Homo sapiens: one gene and its partners. The protein of the gene in region 1 purifies or fractionates together with the protein of each later gene. This does not show direct contact. Each region holds a gene or a part of one and is shown in the gene's direction. Other genes may lie near its edges. The genes, in order: IFT88, EIF4B, CLUAP1, CASP14, TRAF3IP1, SERPINB12 and IFT172.

Region 1 (3,500 bases):
CTTAACTCAAGATTATAAATCATTTTTCTGTATTTTCTTTTCATACTCTTCTTATAGCTTTGTTTTTTCTGTTGAGTTTCAAAATTTTGAGTTCATTTTTTATGAAATAAGAATCTACATTTAAAAAAATTAATGGCCAGGTGTGGTGGCTCATGCCTGTAATCCCAGCACTTTGGGAGGGCCAAGGCAGGCGGATCATGAGGTCAGGAGATCGAGACCATCCTGGCTAACACAGTGAAACCCCGTCTCTACTAAAAATATAAAAAATTAGCCAGGCGTGATGGCGGGCGCCTGTAGTCCCAGCTACTCAGGAGGCTGAGGCAGGAGAATGGCATGAACCCAGGAGGCGGAGCTTGCAGTGAGCCGAGATTGTGCCACTGCACTCCAGCCTGGGCGACAGAGCGACTCCGTCTCAAAATAAATAAATAAATAAATAAATAAATAAATAAATAAATACAAATTAATGTATAGTCAGTTGTTCTGGCACCACTTATTACTAGCACTTTCCTCCCCACTGATTTTAAATGTCTTTAACTAAACTCTATAGTTGAGTGCATTTCTGAACTGTTTATTCTGTTCTATTGGTCTGTTTGTCTATTCCTGCCCCCTACCACACTTTTAAAATCACTGAAGCTTTGTAGCATCTTTTGGTGTCTGCCAGTGGAGAATCCCCACCCTAACATTATTCTTTAAAAAAATCCTCAGTTGGCCGGGTGTGGTGGCTCATACCTGTAATCCCAGTACTTTGGGAGGCTGAGGCAGGTGGATCGCTTGAGGCCAGGAGTTCCAGACCAGCCTGAGCAACATGGCAAAATCCCGTCTCTACTAAAAATACAAAAAATTAGCTGGGCGTGGTAGCACGTGCATATAATCCTAGCTACTTGAGAGGCTGAGGTGGGAGAATCACCTGAGCCTGGGAGGTCGAGGCTGCTGTGAGCCATGTTTGTGCCACTACACTCCAGTGTGGGCAGCAGGAGTGAGACCCTGTATCAAAAAACAAAAACCTGAGTTCATCTTCATTTTCTCTTCTGGATAAATATTTTCATATATTTTGAGATTTATTCTGTTATGTTAAATAAATTAATACCAATAATGATACTTATAGATTTTCTTTTTTTTCTTCTTTTTTTAAGGCCTTACCTATGAGAAACTAAATCGGCTAGATGAGGCTTTGGACTGTTTCCTGAAACTTCACGCAATCCTACGAAACAGTGCCGAAGTTCTTTACCAGATAGCAAATATGTATCTTATTTGAAAACCTTAGGGACAGTTATTAATTCTCTCAATTGGTGATTGAAGATCAATTATTAAATAAGTTTAACTAATGAAGTAATTGATGAGGATAATATTTGAAGTAAGTGATGAGGATAATCTGGCAGATTATTGTGTGATAAATATCATTTGAGTAATCCTATTTTAAGATGTAGTTTGCATCGAAAGAGGAATTAATGGTTAAAACTATTATTTATTAAATTTTGAAAATAACTGAAGTAATTAGGACATTTTCGGTACATATAAGCCATTCATTGAAAGTCAATTTGGTGCTTTAGAACGTTGTATTAATTCTGAAGCTTGTAGGGTATCATTGAAGCACTAACTTACTAAATAAAATACTGTTTATTACTGATTACTATTGATTGAATTTGGATAATTTTTCTTACTTTTTTAGCTGGCCTGTAGATATAATGAGGTCTCCAAAGACTGTTACCCTCTAAAATTATGTAATTCTTCATATGAACTCATTCATTCTGTTCATTTAATAGTCATTTATTGAATGTATACTATGTGTATCAGTATTATGTTTCAAACTCAGGGGAATGTAGAACTACAAAATGTTGCGCTAATATCAGTTTCTTCCACAACACTTAGCTTTCTTAATAAGCCCTGCTCTTGGTTAGAAAAGCAGAAATGTGTTAATGTTTTTAATGCTTTTCATGCTATTTGAAAAGCACTTTTAATTTCTCTCCTTATTTTGGTAAGCTTTGGCCACAACATTGGGAAGAGTTAAACATCTTAGGTAGATTTTCAACTTACTGTTATCTTGGTTTAAATTTTATACAAATATGTTTAGAAAATTTTATATGTTGTGAGGTGTACCATTAATAATTTTAAGTACTATCTGCTGTACTTTTGATAAAGAATTTTATTGAAAAATTTTAGTTTTAGGCCAGGCACAGTAGCTCACACCTGTAATCCCAGCACTTTGGGAGGCCAAGGCAGGCGGATCATTTGAAGTCAGGAGTTCGAGACCAGCCTGGCCATCATGGTGAAACCCCATCTCTACTAAAAATACAAAAATTAGCCGGGTGTTGTGGCAGGCACCTGTAATCCCAGTTACTCCCGAGGCTGAGGCAGGAGAATCACTTGAACCTGGGAGGCAGAGGTTGCAGTGAGCCAAGATAGTGCCACTGTACTCCAGCCTAGGTGCAGAGCTAGACTATCTCAAAAAAAAATTAGTTTTAGAGCAGATAGCATCATAGTTACTCCTGTTAGTCTTTTTGTTCTGTTTTGTTCATTTAATTTCTCTGAAACTGCCAGTGTCATTATCTTTTACCACCCAGTTCATGATCAGCTTGGATCCAGTCAAGCAACTGATGTATTTGAGACTGTTTGAGTACATTTTCTTTTTTTTTTTTCTTGTGGTATCACACTTGTCATCGTTAAAAACAGTAGATCTTCTGGTGTCACTCTTGTCACCATTGAAAACAATGCTTCTTTTTCAATAAACTTTGAATTGGAATATTTTCATTTCACTGAGATATCTAATATGTATAAAATAAATAGTAATTAATCAAAAAGTACTGATATGAATAAATTATTTGTATATACACCGAAGACTTAGTAGGTACTAAAAGGAAGCTACAAAAAAAAAAAAAAACAACACTGTCCTTGGGTTTATAATCTAATTAGGGAAAACTCACAGGAAAAACACATGGAAATAATTTCCTTAATATGCTGAACATGTTAAGAAAAAGAATAACTGGATGCAACATTCAGGACATTTTTATTAAGGACAATTTTTGGACAATACTTTGAATAATTCTACCAGAAATTTGGGAGTTGATCTTAGTGGATAGTAATGGAGGAAAAGGGAAAGCAGGCTATATACATAGGGAGCAAGAGTGTTACCTCCACAGTACTGCTGCATTCCATCTCCACCCCTGAGATATCCAGAGGAAACAGTATACAATAGCACATTACTGTAGGCTAAGAAATATTGTTACTGTAATGTTTTTTAAGTTTGCTTATTGCTTAATGAATTTAGAAAACATGTTTTCCTTAACTGACATTGCATAAGATATGAATTAATGGAAAATCCCAGTCAAGCTATTGAATGGCTAATGCAGGTGGTCAGTGTTATTCCAACCGATCCTCAAGTTTTATCTAAGCTAGGAGAATTATATGATCGTGAAGGAGATAAATCTCAAGCATTTCAATATTACTATGAGGTAGGTGTGTTATCTTAATTTCCTTCTGTGTTTTAGCATTTTATGAATTGT
Region 2 (3,500 bases), on another chromosome or scaffold:
TAGTTGCCCAGGCTAGAGTGCAATGGCGCGATCTCGGCTCACTGCAACCTCTGCCTCCCAGGTTCAAGTGATTCTCCTGCCTCAGCTTCCCAAGTAGCTGGGCTTGCCACCACGCCCGGCTAATTTTTGTATTTTTAGTAGAGACGGGGTTGCACCATGTTGGCCAGGATGGTCTGGATCTCTTGACCTTGTGATTCGCCCGCCTCGGCCTCCCAAAGTGCTGGGATTACAGGCGTGGGCCACTGCGCCCAGTGAAAAAACTACGTTCTTAAAAGCGATTTCCTCAAGCAAGAAGCCTAAAAATAATAGCTAACATTTATTAACCATTTACTCTGTTCCATCAGTGAGCTGAGGGCTTGTACAAGTATTGTTTAATTCTAAGACTTCTGTGTGGTATAGGTAAAATTACAAGTTAGAAAAGTGGAGGCTCAGATGTGGGCCTCATGTTCTCCTTGACTTCTGACCTTTTCCTCTCTCACACTGTCCCTTACCTCCCCACCAAGAGCTGCATACCTAATTTTTTATTTCTCTTCTTGCTCTTACCCCCCCATTCCCTCTAAGATTTGCCCTCTTGTCTCTAGTTGCTGCTGCTACCTTCGTTGAGGCCTCATTGCTGCACCCACGTTACTGGCCATTGCCTCCTAACAGAGTTCCCTTTCTTGCTCCGTTCTTCACATTGGCCCCAGTTGTCAGTTGTCTTTCTGGCATAAGATCTAATTACCTTATTCTCCTGTTTAGACCTGTCTAGTTTCCCCATGGCCTGGAACATAGCCCTTTCTCTATACCTCTGACATACACGGGCCTTCACTGTTTGCCCAGCCTTTACTTTTTTCTTCTTGAGACAGGATCTCACTCTGTCGCCCAGGCTAGAATTGCTGTGACATAATCATGGTTAACTGTAGCCTCAGCCTTCTGAGCTCAAGTGATCCTCCTTCCTCATCCTCCCCAGTAGCTGGGACTAGAGGTGCGTGCCATATGCCTGGCTAATTTTGATATTTTTTCTAAAGATGGGGTTTCTCCACATTGCCCAGGCTGGTTTTAAACTTCCAAGTTCAAGTGATCCACTTGCCCTCGGCCTACCAAAGTGCTGGGATTACAGGCGTGAGCCACTGTGCCCGGCTGCGTTCTTTTATTAATATCTTAAATGAGCTACTTTTTCTGAGCCCCTATTTTATCTTACAAAAGTGACGGGGCTATAACACAGATTTAAAATATGTTTAGGAACATATATAAACTGTCGGCTTAAAGCCCTCGTAGAAAATTTAGATCTTGTTAAACAGTACCCTCTATCTACAGGTACTATGTGCATATGTAGTAAAAGTATAAAATCAAGTGTGGGCATGATGAAGTCACCATCTAGTGGTTATTTAGAGGACAGAGTACAGCTGGTCATGTCATCAGGAGGTTTTACCTCTTTGTTAAGGTTACATTACTTAAGCCAGGTGATTGTATACATAGGCTTTCTTTATATTCTCTGTATCTTTTGTATATCCAAAATATTTAGGACAAACAATCATTTTTAGAAATTTAACTTCCTTGAAACACTTAGGTTTCTCTTGAAAGTGTTCTGACAACTTGAATTGAGGAAGAAATCAGACTGCCTGCCTTAAGAGTTTATTTGTTCAGTGTTACATGCTTTGCCCCATGAACCACCTGCCAAATTTATATTATACACAGAGACAAGGGTATAAGATCTAGAGTCTTCCTGGCTGGGCGTGGTGGCTCACATCTGTAACAGCACTTTGGGAAGCCAAGGCAAGCGGATCACTTGAGGTCGGGAGTTCAAGACCAGCCTGGCCAACATGGTGAAGCCCCATCTCTACTAAAAATACAAAAATTAGTTGGGCATGGTGCCACGTGCCTATACTCCCAGCTACTGAGGAAGCTGAGGCAGGAAAATCAGGGAGGCAGAGGTTGCAGTGAGTTGAGATCACACCACTGCCCTCCAGCCTGGGTGACAGAGCGAGACTGTCTCAAAAAAAATAAAGAACTAGAATCTTCCCTATCATATTGTATTAGTTCTTAACATGCAGATTTCGGAGCAAGATACTTTCATCCAGTAGTTTAATGATGGTCAAAAATTTCTTCCCATATAAAAGAAGTCTTGATAGATTATTAATTTATTACTTAAATGTTTACCATTTTTAGTCTTTCCTGTGGTCTTGTACTACATCATGGATGTGGTAGAAGAGTAATTGAACTTGGGTTTTTTTGTTTTTTTTTTTTTTTGAGATGGAGTTTGGCACTTGTTGCCCAGTTTGGAGTGCAGTGGTGTGTTCTCAGCTCACTGCAACCTCCGCCTCCCCGGTGGGTTCAAGCGATTCTCCTGCCTCAGTCTCCTGAGTAGCTGGGACTACAGGCATGTGCCACCACTCCTGGCTAATTTTGTATTTTTAGTAGAGATGGGGTTTCTCCATATTGGTCAGGCTGGTCTCGAACTCCTGATCTCAGGTGATCCGCCCGCCTCAGCCCCCCAAAGTGCTGGGATTACAGGCGTGAGCCATTGCGCCCGGCCAGAACTTGGTTATTTATGCCACCTATTTTTATTTTTATTTATTTTTATTTATTTATTTTAGGCGTAGTTTTGCTTTTGTTTTCCAGCCTGGAGGGCTGGAGTGCAGTGGTGCGATCCTGGCTCACCACAACCTCTGCCTCCCAGGTTCAAGCGATTCTCCTGCCTCAGCCTCCCGAGTAGCTGGGATTATAGGCATGCACCACCATGCCTGGCTAATTTTTTATTTTTACTAGAGACGGGGTTTCTCCATGTTGGTTGTGTTGGTCTCGAACTCCCGACCCCAGGTGATCCACCCGCCTCGGCCTCCCAAAGTATCGGGATTACAGACGTGAGCCACCACGCCCAGCCTGAGCTACCTATTTTCTTTTTTTTTTTTCTTTTTTTTATTTTTGAGACGGAGCCTTGCTCTGTCACCAGGCTGAAGTGCAGTAGCTCGATCTTGGCTCACTGCAACCTCTGCCTCCCAGGTTCAAGCAATTCTCTTGCCTCAGCCTCCTGAGTAGCTGGGACTACAGGTGCGCGCCCCAACGCCCAGCTAATTTTTGTATTTTTAGTAGAGACGGGGTTTCACCATGTTGTCCAGGATAGTCTCGATCTCTTGGCCTTGTGATCCACCCGCCTCGGCCTCCCAAAGTGCTGGGATTACAGGCGTGAGCCACCATGCCCAGCCTAAACTACCTGTTTTCTAATGATCTATTTGCCTTCTGTGGATTGGTTAGGCCACTAACTTGAATCTCATGTAGCATTTCATAGGAGTTATATCTGAGAAATCTGGCTTTCAGCCATCAGCTTCTGGTGATTGGAAAACTATTACTTAAAGTTTCATTTAACTTAGGTCCCCCCCAAAGACCCAAACTGAATCTAAAGCCTCGGAGTACTCCTAAGGAAGATGATTCCTCTGCTAGTACCTCCCAGTCCACTCGAGCTGCTTCTATCTTTGGAGGGGCAAAGCCTGTTGACACAGCTGCTAGAGAAAGAGAAGTAG
Region 3 (3,500 bases), on another chromosome or scaffold:
AATACTGAGCATTTGAGTTTGGCAGAGCTATTTTGTTGTCCAGGAGGGCTAACTGGGAGTACCTAACGCATCCGTGTGGACACATGTCATCTTGACGAGGAATTCATTGCTAGCATTACTCTGTGGCAGAGGCAGGCCATGGAGAAATGGTACGGGACAGGCACATTTCGAGGGCACTAGAAAGAGCTTGGAGTTTAGAACATTTTAAACATTGGGTACCTGGGAAAGAACAGTCAAGGGCAGTGAAAAGAAACGTTGGCCATTTTTTTGTATTATCTGGGGCCACCTCTGGGTTCAGAGAACAAACCAAACAGTATGCCTCAGAGTGGCAGGTAGGTGGCCCAGGAAACTTCCCAGGGAGCCCCTCTACCCTACCCTTCCTTCAACAAGTACATCTCTTTTTCTCTTACTCACTCTCGCTCTCTGTCGTTAGAATACCTGTTCCCTCGAAATACCCCATGCCGGAAACACAGTGCTTTATTTTTAATGTTTAGAACAACAATATATAAAGCCAACTTCCTCCCTCTGTCTGTCCCTCCCCCCCACTCTCTCTCTTTGTCTCTTTCTCTTTCTCAACGGGGTCTCACTCTGTTGCCTGCCACTCTGTCTGGAGGGCAGGGTGTGATTATAACTCACTGTAGCTTCAGACCTCTTGGGCTCAAGCGATCCTCCCACCTCAGCTTCTTGAGTAGCTGGGACTATAGGCACTTGCCACCATACCTGGCTAAATTTTTTAAATTTGTTGTAGAGATGAGGTTTCCCTATGTTGCCCAGGCTGGTCTCAAACTCCTGGGCTCAAGTGATCCTCCTGCCTTGGCCTCCCAAAGCGTGGGGGTTACAGGTGTGAGCCACCACGCCCAGCCCCCATTCTCTTTCTTGATAATAATCAAGGCCACATTTTATGATCTGAGATATTTCCTCCTGTCCCCACCCCTGTTCCCATCCTTACCTGTCCCACCATTTAGCATCTTTTGAGCTGGAATCTGAAGGCAGGGCAGGAAAGATAAATGATAAAATCTATACTTTCTTCCTTTGAAAGCAGGAGGCCTGTCTCTGCCCTAAAATTAGATGTGTCTGTTCTGTGTCCCCAGGTCATACAGGCATGCGTGATGGGCATTTAGTTCTCCTCAGAGGCAGGGAAATGCAATCGGAGAAGCATGGGGTGGGGCAGCTGCTTCACTCTGGGCGCCCCTGTCCACCAGGCCACGAGGCAACCGCAGAGAGAAAGGGCAGTAAGTTTCAGGACCCTGGAGTTGCTCAGGCAGTGTTAATTCTCTTCCCCTTCCTTGAGTTTAGCTCTTTTTTTGTTCTGTAGCACAAACTTAGCAGTCCTTACACAGTGGTGAAGAAGAATAGAACAGTCCAGAAAAGGGCCATCTCTCCTGAGTCTGTATTTCCTCTTCCACAGGAAGCTAAAAACACTCTCTGCCTGATACAGAACAAGCTCAAGGAGGAAGAGAAGCGCCTGCTCAAGAGTGGAAGTAAGGCTGGGCTTCGTAGACGAGCAGTTTACTCTGGACTAGTATTTTCAGCCTTGAAATATATATAGAGAGATATATATATATTTTTTAATATGTATTTTCTTCTTTTTTTCAGCAGTTTTTTTTTTACTGTAGTAAGAACACTTCACTTTACATCTTCAATTTTGAAAAGTATAATAAATTATTGTTGACTATAGGTACAAAAATATTTTCAAAAGGCGGTTTTCTCACAACTTCTATATTGGGTACCATTGTATTCACTCAAGAGTCTGGTTTAAATATAGCATTTAAAACACATTTCGTTCTTGTGCCAGTTAAGATAGTGTTTTCCCCTGTTTAAATGATAGTTTGAATTATATATGATGCGTAACTATAAGAAAACATGGCCCTAGATGTGTGTAGGGTTCTGTATTTTCAGGCTGAATGATGGAAAGCAAGCACTGGGATGCAGTGCAGGGAGAGGGGCCGCTCGCTTTGTGATGGTCCCCATGCTGCTGAGATGCCCCCCATAATCCAGAATGGCTCAGCAAGACACTCAGCTGGAGAGACACAGGGTTACGTCCATGCAAAGCCTAGATTCCGGGAAGGAGCTCTCTGTGACCAGGCAGCTTCCCTTATCCTTGTGTGGGCGGCAAGCCGCCCAGGTGCCGAGGCAAGAGACCGAGAGCACGAGCTGTTCCAGTATAATAAAATATATAAAATAAGAATAGTTATACTAGATATAGATCATAGATATGATTATATATGAATATCATTAATCATTAGTTTATAGCAATTACTCTTTATTCCAATATCATAATAATCCTCGCTCTACAATCATAACCTAGGAAAAAACAGGCCATACAGATATAGGAGCTGAGGGGACATGGTGAGAAGTGACCAGAAGACAAGAGTGCAAACCTTCTGTTATGCCCAGACAGGGCCACCAGAGGGCTCCTTGGTCTAGTGGGAACACCAGCGTCTGGGAAGCCGCCCGTTGCCAAGTGGACCGTGGTCTAGTGGTAGCGTCAGTGTCAAGGAAAAACACCTGCTACTTAGCAGACCAGGAAAGGGAGTCTCCCTTTCCCCGGGGGAGTTTAGAGAAGACTTTACTCCTCCACCTCTTGTGGAGGGCCTGACATCAGTCAGGCCCGCCCGCAGTTATCCGGAGGCCTAACCATCTCCCGGTGATACTGTGCTTCAGTGGTCATGCTCCTAGTCTGCCTTCATGTTCTGTCCTGTACACCTGGCTCTGCCTTTTAGATAGTAGTAGCAAATTAGTGGAAGTACTAAAAGTCTCTGATAAGCAGAAATAATGGCGTAAGCTGTCTCTCTCTCCTCTCTGTCTCTCTGCCTCAGCTGCCAGGCAGGGAAGGGCCCCCTGTCCAGTGGATACGTGACCCATGTGACCTTACCTATCACTGAAGATGGCTCACTCTCCTTACCCTGCCCCTTTGTCTTGTATCCAATAAATATCAGCACAGCCTGGCATTCAGGGCCACTATCAGTCTCCACGTCTTCGTGGTAGTGGTCCCCCAAGCCCGGCTGTCTTTTCTTTTATCTCTTTGTCTTGTGTCTTTATTTCTACAGTCTCTCATCTCTGCACATGGGGAGAAAACCCACCGACCCTGTGGGGCTGTACCCTACATCCCTGAACTTCAGTGTCAAGTCACTGTCAGGGACCGGTAGCAGCCCAGGATCTTCCTGCTGAATTGATGGCCTTGTTGCACGGAGTTCCTCCTCCTCTTGCTGGTTGCCCTTTCTTTTCTTCAGGGTGAAATATTCTATTCACTCTCATGTTGAGGGCAGCATACTTGAGGCATCAGGCCCACACACATGCTCCCACACACACTCTCTCTCTCTCTCTTTCTCTTTCTTTGCCATTTCCCTTGTATCTCTCTCATTTTGCACCTGTTCTGTGACTCTCTCGTCTGAATCTCAGGAAACTTTGGAGGAAGGATAGGGACTGCTGGGAAATCCTCCAGGAACAAGGTTAGGAAATTTGAAGGGCCTGTCTAGCCAAAGCAGCCCTCCCCTTTT
Region 4 (3,157 bases), on another chromosome or scaffold:
AATCCAAGCCAGATCTCAATACAGAAACTAAGAAGCCCACTTTCCAACAACTTTCCCAAATGCAGGGACTCTTAAAAGCCACAGTATGGGAGATAAATTTCTATAAACAAATCCCCCTTGGATATAAACAATGTTTGGGCAAACTGTTTTCTTTTAATGTTTATATGTTTTTATTGCAAATTATTTAAAAAATGCCCAGCCAAGGATTCCATACAAACTATGGTATAGGAAGAGGCCACAACGGTCTCTCATCTTAGGACAAGAATACCCACCTGCCCCGTTCCCTAACCCTCCCCCCATAAGTCCATGACACTGACTCCTCCAAGCTCACCACACCTGTTGCTGCAGGTGACCCGGCGGATGGCAGAAGCAGAGCTGGTTCAAGAAGGAAAAGCAAGGAAAACGAACCCTGAAATCCAAAGCACCCTCCGGAAACGGCTGTATCTGCAGTAGAAGTAGAAAGACCAGGAGGAGCTTTCCTTCCAGCATTCTTTCTGTCTCACAGAAATTTAGAGGCAGCTCTTACCTCTCCCCAAGATCTTCTGTTCCCAAGGCCAAATGGCACCCAGTTTCTTTTCCATCACACCCTTCATGCAGGTCCTCCTGTCCTTATTAGAGCAAGCCAGCCAAAACTTAGCACAAGGCATGGTGGCAACATTAACATCACCTCCCTCAGGCTGGACTTTCTATCTTTATTAATGCAACCGAAGAGACCTAAGAGTGCATTCACTTATCCCACTTTCTGTTCCTGTGGTCTTCTTTCTCCCATGAAGCAGAAACTGGATAAAGCTCAAGATTTTCCATAGACAAACCAAAGCCCACTCATCCCCTCCTACCCCAATCCAACCTCTGCTGGCTCCTGCATCTCACTTGGAGGTCAAACCTCCTCCTGAGGCCAATGCATTCCCAACTTCCAGTTCTTTCCTTTACCCTGGAGAGTTAGTAAGGTAAGAACCATTCTTTCTCTCCAAAACCACTCCTCCTTGGCTGGCAAGTTGGTGTCCTAACTCCGTTCTCTTCCTAGCTCATGGCCTCTCTAGATAATAAAGTTGTCTCCTCCTTTCTGGATCTCTTCCTCCTAACACCCCTCCCCTGAAACCCTGGACTCTGCCCTCTCTCCAAGAAAATCCATCTATTCAACTATTCTTGCATTCAATTACTCTAAATGAGAGCGTGTTGGAGCTATGGCAAATTCCCTGTTGTCACCTTGCTATTTTGCAGACAACATAATATTTAACCTCTCATAACCAGAGAGGTTAAATAATTTGTCAAATGCAATACAGTAAGACAGAGGCAAGGACAAGGTTTGACTTCCAGCCCAGCCTCTTTTCCACAACCTGCTAAATCCTGATCCATCTGAAAACTTTTCTAATTAGTGAAGATGACTAATAAAAATTTTCCCTATCTCCAAGGTAGGAGCTTTCTGGAAGTTTCTAGAAATTTTCAATAACCACCAGCCAAGGTTACCTCCAGGTAACCTTGCAGCACCAGGCTGGAAGTCAGATCGGCTTCACTATCTTCCAACTCTACAGCCTGTATCTCTCCATCCCCAGCTTTGACCTTTCCTGCTCAAGTAACCTACGGGCACATCCAGCGTCACTAAAAACTCAGGGCTTTTCTTCCCGGTTACTCCTCCAAGCGTTCCCTGGTATCCTCAACCTCAGATCCCAGGTTCAGATTTCTGCAGTCAATCTATGACCCCTCTCTTCTTGCATCCTTCATATGCCACCAGACACCATGCCCAGTCCAGCCTGATTTTGAAACAACTTTCATGCCGGTCTTCTCTTCCCTGACATGTTACTGTCCAGGCTCAAGTCCTCAGCTTCTCATATCTGCATCTTTGCAACCAACTTCCTCCCTTGCCTCTCTGCTTTTCCATCCCACTTTTCATGTGTCCTCCATACCATCTATAACAGTGATCTCCCTGGAACACTCAAGAAGACACAACATACCATATTATTTAAAGACCAGGGTACTGGACAGTGGCTCACACCTGTATTCCCGACTTTGAGAGTCTGAAGCGGGAGGATCACTTGAGGCCAGGAGTTAAGAGACCAGCCTGGGCAACACAGCAAGACCCTGTCTCTAAAAAAAAAAATTAATTAACTGGGTATGGTGGCACATGCCTGTAGTCCCAGCTACTCAGGAGGCTGAGGTGGGAGGATGACTTGAGCCCAGGAGTTTGAGGCTGCAAGGAGCTATGATCATGCCAGTGCATCCCAGCTCTAGGTGAGACAGTGAGATCCGGTCTCCAAAATAAATCAATCAATCAAATAAAGACCAAAGTCAAACCGCACATCAGGATCTCTCACACCCTTCCAATTTTGCCATCTACCAGCACTTAGCTAAACCCATCTCCCATCTCTTCCACCATGAATTCACTCTTTCAAAAAGGCTAATGTCTTCTTACTCACCCTTGCCTCTAAGCCTTTGCTATCACCATTTCCCCCAAGCTGGAGGGCCCTCCCTCTCCCTTTACCCCTCTTCCACTACCTCCCACCCCTACTTTTTCCAGAAAGCCATTTCCTCTCTTTTTTCTGATTGATCCTTCCCTCTCACCCAGGATTAGATGCTGGAAATGACCACTTCTGGAGGGCAGGGAACAAGCCCTTAATCTGCATAATGAGTGTTCAATAAACAGTTGTCAAACTTTGAAAGAAAGTGTTGAAATCTTTGTTCTGTGCTGAAACAGTGAGGCTGATACAAAAGGAGTTATGGATTTAATTTCTTTTTTCCCAGTGGCTGGCTTCCTCCCAGGTGTGTCTATCATGAATGGAGAATCAGGAGCTTCAGCCTGTGTCTTCTTTCCTTTTTTTTTTCTTTAAGAGATGAGATCTTGCTCTGCCACCCAGGCTGGAGTACAGTGGCACCATCATAGCTCACTGCACCCTCGACCTCCTGGGCTCAAGCAATCCTCCCACCTCAGCCTCTCATGTAGCTGGGACTACAGGTGTGCATCACCACACCTGGCTAATTTTCTTATTTTTCGGTAGAGATTGGGTCTTGCTATGTTGCCGAGGCTGGTCTCACAGTCCTGGTCTCAAGCAATCCTCTTGCCTTGGCCTCCCAAAGTGCTGAGATTACAGATGTGACCCACCACACCGAGCTCCTGTCTCTTTCACAAAAACAGACGTGTTGGGAATTTGTAAAGTTACAG
Region 5 (3,500 bases), on another chromosome or scaffold:
AAACATTTGAAATTTTTGTCATGCTTTTGGTGTCAAGTCTTCGAACTCTTTGCCTAGTCCTAGATCCCAAAGACTTTTTCCTCCTGTGTTTTTTATCTTAAAGTTTTATAGATTATATTTAAATCCATAGTCCATTTCGAGTTAATTTTTGTTTAAGATATGAGATTAGGTCAACGTTTTGTTTGTTTTTTGGCTTATGGATGTCCACTTAACCCAGTGCCAAATGGTGCAAAGCTCTCTCTGCCACTAAATTGCTTTTGTACCTTTGTCAAAGATTGCTTGGGCATATGGACATATTCGTATGGATCTACTTTTGGATTCTGTGTTCTGTTCATTTGATCTATGTCCCTCTGTCAATACTGCACTGTCTTGATTACTGTAATTGTATAAAAAGACTTGAAGCCTACGCGGTGGCTCACACCTGTAATCCCAGCACTTTGGGAGGCCGAGATGGGAGGATCACCTTAGCTCAGGAGTTTGACACCAACCTGGCCAACATGGTGAAATCCCATGTCTACTAAAACAAAAATTAGCTGGGCATGCTGGTGTGCGCCTGTGATCCCAGCTACTTGGGAGGCCGAGGCAGGAGAATCGCTTGAATCTGGGAGGCAGAGGTTGCAATGAGCCAAGATCACACAACTGCACTCCAGCCTGGGCGACAGAGTGAGACTCCGTTTCAAAAAAAAGCCTTGAAATTGGGTAGACTGGTTATTTCTGTCTTTATTCTTTTTCTGAAAATGTTTTAGCTATTGTAGTTCCTTTGCCTTTCTGTATACATTTTAGGATAATCTTGTCTATACAAAAACATTGGCTGCAAGTTTGGTAGGATTTGCATTAAACATGCGTATCGGTTTGGGGAAAATTCATGTCTTTACTGTGTCCTGTCTTCCATTCCATGGACACAGTGTGTCTTCTCATTTATTTAGATTTCCTTTGATTTCTTTCATCTGCATTGTTTCGTTTTCCATTTCCAAGTCCTATACATGTTTTGTTAGATTTACAACTAAGGATAGTCTTCTATTGAACAATTGTCAATGGCATTGTATTTTTAATTGCAGTGTCCATGTTTTCATTGCTCATACATAGAAATATAGTTGATTTTCATATGCTCATCTTGTATACTACAACCTTGCTGAACTCACTTATTAGTTGTATGAGTTTTACGTTTTACTTAAAGTCCCAATTATTTAACACTTTCTATGTGCCAGGCATTATGCTAAAGCTTTCTTGTACTTGTCCAAGCCAGTAAATGGTGGAACTAGGATCTTCATACATAAATCATTTATCCACTTCATTAGTTCATTTCACAAATTCTTAGGCAGAGCTTATGTGAATCACAGTGAATCTAGGCACAAGGTCCTGCCCTCCTGAGCCCACAGTCTGAAACTAGCAGAAGTAATGCAAGTGAATATGTAGCTATGATACGTTCAAATTAAATAAGTTGATTTGTTACAACTGAGTGCATTTACTAGCTCATTCTGTAAGTGGGTGAGGCAAGGAAGGGCCCCTTACCGGTCTGGAGTGGGTGGGGGGGTGTCCAGGGAGGGCTTCCTAAAGAAACAGTGTTGCAGGGCATGATGGCTTACATCTGTAATCCCAGCGCTTTGGGAGGGCAAGGCAGGAGGATCACTTGAGCCCAGGAGTTTGAGAGTAGCCTGGGCAACATAGTGAGACCCTGGCTGTAAAGAAAGAGAGAGAGAAGAAAGAAAGGGAAGAAGATAACCATCTGATCTTTGACAAACCTGACAAAAACAAGCAATGGGGAAATGTTTCCCTATTTAATAAATGGTGCTGGGAAAACTGGCTAGCCATATGTAGAAAGCTGAAATTGGATCCCTTCCTTACACCTTATACAAAAATCAATTCAAAATGGATTAAAGACTACATGTTAGACCTAAAACCATAAAAACCCTAGAAGAAAACCTAGGCAATACCATTCAGGACATAGACATGGGCAAGGACTTCATGTCTAAAACACCAAAAGCAATGGCAACAAAAGCCAAAATTGACAAATGGGATCTAATTAAACTAAAGAGCTTCTGCACAGCAAAAGAAACTACCATCAGGGTGAACAGGCAACCTACAAAATTAGAGAAAATTTTCGCAACCTTCTCATCTGACAAAGGGCTAATATCCAGAATCTACAATGAACTCAAACAAATTTACAAAAAAAAAACAACCCCATCAAAAAGTGGGCAAAGGATATGAACACACACTTCTCAAAAGAAGACATTTACGCAGCCAAAAAACACATGAAAAAATGCTTATCATCACTGGCCATCAGAGATATGCAAATCAAAACCACAATGAGATACCATCTCACACCAGTTAGAATGGCGATCATTAAAAAATCAGGAAACAACAGGTGCTGGAGAGGATGTGGAGAAATAGGAACACTTTTACACTGTTGGTGGGACTGTAAACTAGTTCAACCATTGGGGAAGTCAGTGTGGCGATTCCTCAGGGATCTAGAACTAGAAATACCATTTGACCCAGCCATCCCATTACTGGGTATATACCCAAAGGATTATAAATCATGCTGCTATAAAGATACATGCACACGTATGTTTATTGCGGCACTATTCACAATAGCAAAGACTTGGAACCAACCCAAATGTCCAACAACGATAGACTGGATTAAGAAAATGTGGCATATATACACCATGGAATACTATGCAGCCATTAAAAATGATGAGTTCATGTCCTTTGTAGGGACATGGATGAAACTAGAAACCATCATTCTCAGCAAACTGTCGCAAGGACAAAAAACCAAACACTGCATGTTCTCACTCATAGGTGGGAATTGAACAATGAGAACACATGGACACAGGAAGGGGAACATCACAATCCGGGGCCTGTTGTGGGGTGGGGGGAGGGGGGAGGGATAGCATTAGGAGATATACCTAATGTTAAATGACGAGTTAATGGGTGCAGCACACCAACATGGCACATGTATACATATGTAACAAACCTGCACATTGTGTACATGTACCCTAAAACTTAAAGTATAATAATAATAAAAAAATTAAAAAAAAAAAGGAAAGAAGGAGAAAGAACTGATGTTAATTTTCCCAAGCTTATTGATTCTTATCAACTCACATCAGTTTCTGACATTCAGAGATGTCTGTGATCAAAGCTCATATGAAGAGAATTCTAAATGTTGCATGGCAAAGAACCCAAGAACTCCTGGCCCAAACCGCATGCAGCTCCCCACTCGTCTCTGCGTCCTCCTCACCTCCTTCACCTGCTGCTGTCTCAACTTGACCCCTTCCATCTGGCCCCTGACCCCTGGACTCTGTGGCCTCCCTGAGCGGCCAGCACAGTCACGTCTAAGTCGACCTGACCATCTGCCTGCTGGGTGCTGCTGGCTGCTGCTGGCTGCTGCTGGCGCTGGCTGCCCTGCACATTCTCCATGCCCTCCTTTCCATGGCACCAGTTTCTGCCTCTCCTTTGGGTTTCTTTCCCCTTGCCCCCTGGCAAGCTGGGTTTTGAAGTCATTT
Region 6 (3,461 bases), on another chromosome or scaffold:
TGAACACTTGTCTCTCAAACACCAGAGCACACTGGAACCTGAGTTGTCCCCTAACTTCTTCTAAAGAGGAAAGATATTTGCTTGAAGTTTTAAATGAAATCAGACTATTCTCTAGCTTAGGGAAAGGTCTTGAAGGTTGTCACTGCCCACTGAAAGGGACTCAGGCACCTTGAAGTAATTGGGGCATTCTTTGTGGTCCCATAATCTGATGCTAAATATTATTTCCTTCCTCTTGTAGCTTGAAAGGAAAATCACCTATGAAAAAATGGTGGCCTGGAGCAGCTCAGAAAACATGTCAGAAGAATCGGTGGTCCTGTCCTTCCCCCGGTTCACCCTGGAAGACAGCTATGATCTCAATTCCATTTTACAAGACATGGGCATTACGGATATCTTTGATGAAACGAGGGCTGATCTTACTGGAATCTCTCCAAGTCCCAATTTGTACTTGTCAAAAATTATCCACAAAACCTTTGTGGAGGTGGATGAAAACGGTACCCAGGCAGCTGCAGCCACTGGGGCTGTTGTCTCGGAAAGGTCACTACGATCTTGGGTGGAGTTTAATGCCAACCACCCTTTTCTCTTTTTCATTAGACACAACAAAACCCAAACCATTCTCTTTTATGGCAGGGTCTGCTCTCCTTAAAAGGGGAGCAGTGTCTAGTACTTTGGAGCTGGAGGAAAATATCAATACAATCTTCCCCTGGCATAAGATGGGCATTTGAGTTTTTGGTAATATCTAAAGCATCTCCTTCATCCTCCAGCCATCGGCTTGTGCTTATCTTGATCTTTCTGTCACCCTGTAGCTTATTTTCATCTGAGTCTGTTAGTATTGAAGGGCTGTTGTTCTCTACCCTAAACTTTCAAGCATATAAATTCACCCTCTGTGACCTGAAGGTCAACACAATTCAGAACAGTACCTACCTCCTTTTGAAGGAATCCTAAAAGTTCAGGTCATTAGACCATTTCTAAGAGATGGCAAACTCAGAAGCCACTTTAACATGGGCAGCAAGAGAACATGTTTGACTGGAACGTGTTTGGAAACTCAGCTCTGTTTCTGGGGTAGTTTGACCGGAACGTGTTTGGAAACTCAGCTCTGTTTCTGGGATAGTTATGATTGTGGTCATCACTGGGCGAGATGCCCTGTTTCTTCCTTTGACAGCTACTGCATGGAAGATGTCCTGTGAGGTCTTTTCACCTAGGACAAGGCAGGGCTTGGGCGTATTTAAGTGATAGCTCAAAGATGTGTGACTGCCCCAACCAGCACTCATTTTGCACAGAGCAGGGGAATGATATTTGTCTTGTGATTTTGACACTGACCCAGGAAAGTGGCTAGTGGATTTAGAGGAGGTTTATCTCAGTTTTCCTTATTGAGTCCCCCAACATTATCATCAAACACTTCCCTCTGTCTCTCCTCCCCCTAGCTCCAAGAATTCCCACCTGTGGCTAGCTCCTTTTATGCACCCAGCACAGGCAGGTGTCAAGAGAAGTGCTGCTGGCATTGTGGACGGCTGGCCTCCGTATGCCCCTCTCTCTGCCTTCTGGCCACGTGGAGGCTGGCCTCTGTGTGCCCCTCTCTCTGCCTTCTGGCCACGTGGAGGCTGGCCTCCGTGTGCCCCTCTCTCTGCCTTCTGGCCACGTGGACTTTTGTGTCTTCCGAGAGGTCTCATGCCAGACCACATGGTGACAACAGGCTTGAGCCTGGGCATGGTGTCCATAGCAATGCTTGTTGGCTGGGCATGATGGCTCATGCCTGCAATCCCAGCACTTCTTGGGAGGCCGAGTCAGGTGGATCACTTGAGTCCAGGAGTTCGAGACCAGCCTGGGCAACATATTGAGACCCTGACTCTACAAAAAATACAGAAATTAGCCGGGCGTGGTGGTGTGCACCTATAGTCCCAGCTACTCGGGAGGCTGAGGTGGGAAGATCACTTGAACCCAGGGGATGGAGGCTGCAGTAAGCTGAGATGGCGCCACTGCACTCCAGCCTGGGTGACAGAGCGAAACCCTGTCTCAAAAAACAAACAAACAAAAAACCCAAAAAGCCAAAACAAAACCTGAAACCCTTGTCAAGAAGGCCATTGGGCTCATCTCAAGCTCTAGTCTACTGAAGGCCTGACCTCTGAGTGTTCCTACTCGCGGACTCAGGGCCTCTGTTCTCTGGTGTGGTAATCTGAGTTCCTAATTTCTATCTTAGCTGAATGTTCTGCCATGACCACTGACACGTCCAACTCACATCTCTTTGGAGTCAGTCTCTTTCCTATCGAGGTGGGTTTCAGGTCTTGCTTGCGGCTCAGTTTCCTTGGCCCACCTTGTGGCTGTCCTCCTCCCAGCTGCCACCAGTCGTTCAGTGTGGCCACGCAGTTTTTTTGCAGAAGGCAGGTGAACCACACCTGCTCCCATGCTAGCCTCCTCTTCCTTTTCTCACCTACCCCAGTGATTTCTTTGTGCTCTGAGAGACAAGTTCCATGTTCTCCATACAACCTTCTCATTGTTGAAGCTCACTTACGACCTAAAACAATTTGACGTTGGTAACGTGAGGCAGTTTGAGGCAGTGCCCTATCCAGAATGCATGTCCCATGGGTCAAATTAATTTCAGATAACCAAAAACTTCATGTCCCCTGTGGTTCCTTTTGGGGTTGACGTTTTGGGGGCTGTTTCCATGTCTGACTTGGCACCACTGCCCGACACGTAGCTGGAAACCATGACCTATATATAGGCCTGCACTGCCCGGCATTTCTTTTGTTCTTATTCTTTTACTTGGTAAACACATTTTTTTTTCATTTACATCGGGATTTCTCAGATTTTGAAGCATGAGAGGGAGAATGTATCTATTTACAATAATGAGGAAAATTAAGAATCTTAAATCTTTATGTAAATCAGTAAACATTCTTTACTAACCTTTGATTTATTAAGAAGTTTCTTCTGAATGAATAAAGCACTTTTGTTATTAGTTAAAATATATACGATGTGTTGCCAACTGATTTTTTTAGGGATATAAATTTAACTTCAAACTGTTTCATCCAAAAATATAAAAATACATAATCTATGAAACTAACAATTCATCTCAGTTACACAGGAAAAATACATCTTGCCCCAGTAATAGTTTCTCCCAGCTTTCCATCATAATTACATATGAAGGCATATAAAAAAGATGAAAACTGACAATGCTAAAACCAGAGTGATAGCCAGCTGATCATCAGAATATAGAAGACATTTCTGCCGACTACAGGTTTTTCTTTTTTTTTTGTTTGAGATGTAGTCTTGCACTGTTGCCCAGGCTGGAGTGCAGTGGTGCAATCTTGGCTTACTGCAACCTCTGCCTCCTGGGTTCAAGTGATTCTTAAGCCTCAGCCTGCTGAGTAGCGGGATTACAGGCGCCCGCCACCACGCCCAGCTAATTTTTGTATTTTTAGTAGAGAGGGGGTTTCACCATGTTGGCCAGGCTGGTCCTGAACTCCTGA
Region 7 (3,500 bases), on another chromosome or scaffold:
CTGGCCACATGGTGAAACCCCATCTCTACTAAAAATACAAAAAATTAGCCAGGAGTGGTGGCACACGCCTGTAATCCCAGCTACTCGGGAGGCTGAGGTGGGAGAATCGCTTGAGCCAAGGAAGCAGAGGTTGCAGTGAGCCCGAGATCACACAACTGCACTTCAGCCTCGGCAACAGAGTGAGACTCCATCTCAAGAAAAAGAACAGTTGCCTTGGAAAGGGTGTGTGCAAATAAGGAGCCCTGAAGCTTAAGCTTCTTTTAGTTTCCCAGTATTTCTGTTGGTATAGTAGTTAAAAGGCTTTTGGTCCTCATGGGCTGGCATCTTAGCCAGGCTGAGGAGAGCTTGCTGCTTTCTGATCCTCATATCTTTCTGGTGTCCCTCTCTGCTCTGCCTGTTTCCCCTAGAATGCTGTGGAGGAGGCCATGGGCATGTACCAGGAGCTACACCGTTGGGATGAGTGTATCGCTGTGGCTGAAGCCAAGGTACCTGTTTTATCTTCTCCACAGTTGTTCAGAATTTGGTTCTGCCAATTTCAAAAACCTCCTTTTGTCAAGGAGGCCATAGAAACCAGAACAGGGTTGGGGCTTGGACTTGATGTGGTGAGGAGTTAGGATACTGCTGACCCAGGAGGATTCCCCTTGTTATAGAGGGATTGGAGAAGCATGGGAGGCAGAAGGGTAGGAAGGGGGATGTGACTCCTAGTTGTCCTCTGTGCATGTCCAGGGGCACCCAGCCCTGGAGAAGCTACGTCGTAGTTACTACCAGTGGCTGATGGACACACAGCAAGAGGAGCGAGCAGGTGAACTACAGGAGAGCCAAGGGGATGGGCTAGCAGCCATCAGCCTCTACCTCAAAGCTGGGCTCCCTGCCAAAGCTGCTCGGCTGGTGCTGACCCGAGAGGAACTGCTAGCCAACACAGAGCTGGTAGAACACATCACTGCAGCCCTTATCAAGGGGGAACTCTACGAAAGGGTATGCTGGCTTCCTTTTCCTAGCCCTTATCTCCAGAGCTCAGGACCCTTCCCTTACCCAGAGGAGTCTTGGGGTGCAGAGCGCTTCCTGACTGCTGGTGTTCCCTTGTTTTCGGAGCTAATACTTAGTTCTTTGTGTTGTAGGGGTATCATAGTAATGTGGTATGTGTTAACAGGCAGGTGATCTCTTTGAGAAGATTCACAATCCACAGAAGGCCCTGGAGTGCTACCGTAAAGGCAACGCATTCATGAAAGGTACTAGCCACCTATAAGCCATCCTTTACTGTTGTGGACTCTTGCCCATCTGGTTCCCTGGCACCTCTTGTAGGGGTGGGTTGCCCCTACACACCTGTGGGTGTTTCTCGTAAGGTGGGACGAGAGATTTGGAAAAGAAAAAGACACAGAGACAAAGTATAGAGAAAGAAATAAGGGGACCCGGGGAACCAGCGTTCAGCATATGGAGGATCCCGCCAGCCTCTGAGTTCCCTTAGTATTTATTGATCATCTGTGGGTGTTTCTCAAAGAGGGGGATGTGTCAGGGTCACAAGACAATTGTGGGGAGAGGGTCAGCAGACAAACACGTGAACAAAGGTCTTTGCATCATAGACAATGTAAAGGATTAAGTGCTGTGCTTTTAGATATGCATACACATAAACATCTCAATGCTTTACAAAGCAGTATTGCTGCCCGCAGGTCCCACCTCCAGCCCTAAGGCGGTTTTTCCCTATCTCAGTAGATGGAGCATACAATCGGGTTTTATACCGAGACATTCCATTGCCCAGGGACGGGCAGGAGACAGATGCCTTCCTCTTGTCTCAACTGCAAGAGGCATTCCTTCCTCTTTTACTAATCCTCCTCAGCACAGACCCTTTACGGGTGTCGGGCTGGGGGACGGTCAGGTCTTTCCCTTCCCACGAGGCCATATTTCAGACTATCACATGGGGAGAAACCTTGGACAATACCTGGCTTTCCTAGGCAGAGGTACCTGCGGCCTTCCGCAGTTTTTGTGTCCCTGGGTACTTGAGATTAGGGAGTGGTGATGACTCTTAAGGAGCATGCTGCCTTCAAGCATCTGTTTAACAAAGCACATCTTGCACCGCCCTTAATCCATTCAACTCTGAGTGGACACAGCACATGTTTCAGAGAGCACGGGGTTGGGGGTAAGGTTATAGATTAACAGAATCTCAAGGCAGAAGAATTTTTCTTAGTACATAACAAAATGGAGTCTCCTATGTCTACTTCTTTCTACACAGACACAGTAACAATCTGATCTCTCTTGCTTTTCCCCACACCTCTTGGTGCGTGTGTTCAGGATGCCTGGCTCCAGTCCTCCATTCCTCCCCTTCTTACCTATTCTCCATGCTTCATCTCCCTGTCCTACCTTTTTCCTGAGGCCCATCCCTGGAAATCTGGGCTGAGCATCTTTTCTCTCCCTGGCAGCGGTAGAGCTGGCTCGATTGGCCTTCCCAGTGGAGGTGGTGAAACTAGAGGAGGCATGGGGGGACCACCTGGTGCAGCAGAAGCAGCTTGATGCAGCCATTAATCACTACATCGAAGCCAGGTATGGGAGTATGGGAATGTAAAGGAGATTTAGGTGTGAAGTGAGGGGCAGTGGAGCAAGTAAGGACACCAAGGCCTTAAAGAAGAGATCTCAAAATGTAGGTTGAAGTGTGCTTAAAGGGTCCTTTTACCTCCATTCATCTTCATCTTTCATCCTACATATTTATATCTTTCCCAACTTTGCCAGGTGCTCCATTAAGGCAATTGAGGCCGCCCTGGGTGCCCGCCAGTGGAAGAAGGCAATTTATATATTAGATCTACAGGACCGGAACACTGCATCCAAATACTATCCTCTCGTGGCCCAACACTATGCATCCCTGCAGGAGTATGAGGTGAGGAAGAGTCCCTTTCCGCAGCACGAGGCAATGCAGTAGAGGATAACAATGAGAGAACCCAAAGCAGGAAGTGGAGGCAAGTTCACCAGATCCTTCTTTCTGGGCTCCAAACAGCATCATCACCTTGAAGGGGAAGAGAACAGTTTACTTTCCCATTTTCATTCCAGTGTGACACAGATATCGCCCTTCACCCCAGATATATAAAGTGAGTCTCTAGCTGTGTTCCAGTCAGCGTGATTCTTCATGAATAATGCTAACATAGTTATGATATAAAATTGCTTTGCATTGCAGAAATGTGAGGCCCTTTTGGATTCCACTGTTTGGGGCTGGTCTTTCTTTTTAAATGGTAGAATGTATGAGACACCCATACTCATCTTTTCTTCTCTATTATTACAAGGTTGTATCGCAGGCTCTCCACCATCCCAGCCAAGGTTTGTTCTTTCCTCATTCAAGCTGCTTTAAGTCTGTTGCTCTGACCTTTTGTATCTACCTCCCATCAACTACAGATTGCTGAGGAGCTCTATACTAAGGGAGATCGGACAAAAGATGCCATAGACATGTACACCCAGGCTGGTCGTTGGGAACAAGCCCACAAGGTAGGGATGGGTGGAGTTCATGATAAGAGAACTCT

Evidence for each region.
Region 2: the proteins of IFT88 (region 1) and EIF4B purify together in Homo sapiens (co-immunoprecipitation; one large-scale study listed by IntAct). This does not show direct contact.
Region 3: the proteins of IFT88 (region 1) and CLUAP1 purify together in Homo sapiens (affinity purification with mass spectrometry; 2 studies listed by BioGRID and IntAct, with this or other methods). This does not show direct contact.
Region 4: the proteins of IFT88 (region 1) and CASP14 purify together in Homo sapiens (co-immunoprecipitation; one large-scale study listed by IntAct). This does not show direct contact.
Region 5: the proteins of IFT88 (region 1) and TRAF3IP1 purify together in Homo sapiens (affinity purification with mass spectrometry; one large-scale study listed by BioGRID and IntAct). This does not show direct contact.
Region 6: the proteins of IFT88 (region 1) and SERPINB12 purify together in Homo sapiens (co-immunoprecipitation; one large-scale study listed by IntAct). This does not show direct contact.
Region 7: the proteins of IFT88 (region 1) and IFT172 purify together in Homo sapiens (affinity purification with mass spectrometry; 2 studies listed by BioGRID and IntAct, with this or other methods). This does not show direct contact.

Annotation. Positions count from the first base shown.
Region 1 is NC_000013.11:20,640,157-20,643,656, forward strand, and holds part of IFT88 (intraflagellar transport protein 88 homolog), read left to right. Parts: intron 1-1,133; coding exon 1,134-1,242; intron 1,243-3,298; coding exon 3,299-3,449; intron 3,450-3,500. UniProt on the Homo sapiens protein: Positively regulates primary cilium biogenesis. Also involved in autophagy since it is required for trafficking of ATG16L and the expansion of the autophagic compartment.
Region 2 is NC_000012.12:53,030,456-53,033,955, forward strand, and holds part of EIF4B (eukaryotic translation initiation factor 4B), read left to right. Parts: intron 1-3,350; coding exon 3,351-3,500. UniProt on the Homo sapiens protein: Required for the binding of mRNA to ribosomes. Functions in close association with EIF4-F and EIF4-A. Binds near the 5'-terminal cap of mRNA in presence of EIF-4F and ATP.
Region 3 is NC_000016.10:3,525,004-3,528,503, forward strand, and holds part of CLUAP1 (clusterin-associated protein 1), read left to right. Parts: intron 1-1,408; coding exon 1,409-1,481; intron 1,482-3,500. UniProt on the Homo sapiens protein: Required for cilia biogenesis. Appears to function within the multiple intraflagellar transport complex B (IFT-B). Key regulator of hedgehog signaling.
Region 4 is NC_000019.10:15,055,637-15,058,793, forward strand, and holds the end of CASP14 (caspase-14 precursor), read left to right. Parts: intron 1-348; coding exon 349-453; 3' UTR 454-2,657; downstream 2,658-3,157. UniProt on the Homo sapiens protein: Non-apoptotic caspase involved in epidermal differentiation. Is the predominant caspase in epidermal stratum corneum. Seems to play a role in keratinocyte differentiation and is required for cornification.
Region 5 is NC_000002.12:238,393,518-238,397,017, forward strand, and holds part of TRAF3IP1 (TRAF3-interacting protein 1), read left to right. Parts: intron 1-3,500.
Region 6 is NC_000018.10:63,566,369-63,569,829, forward strand, and holds the end of SERPINB12 (serpin B12), read left to right. Parts: intron 1-238; coding exon 239-643; 3' UTR 644-2,961; downstream 2,962-3,461. UniProt on the Homo sapiens protein: Inhibits trypsin and plasmin, but not thrombin, coagulation factor Xa, or urokinase-type plasminogen activator. May play a role in cell differentiation.
Region 7 is NC_000002.12:27,458,744-27,462,243, reverse strand, and holds part of IFT172 (intraflagellar transport protein 172 homolog), read left to right. Parts: intron 1-407; coding exon 408-485; intron 486-726; coding exon 727-975; intron 976-1,150; coding exon 1,151-1,229; intron 1,230-2,414; coding exon 2,415-2,535; intron 2,536-2,721; coding exon 2,722-2,866; intron 2,867-3,375; coding exon 3,376-3,465; intron 3,466-3,500. UniProt on the Homo sapiens protein: Required for the maintenance and formation of cilia. Plays an indirect role in hedgehog (Hh) signaling, cilia being required for all activity of the hedgehog pathway.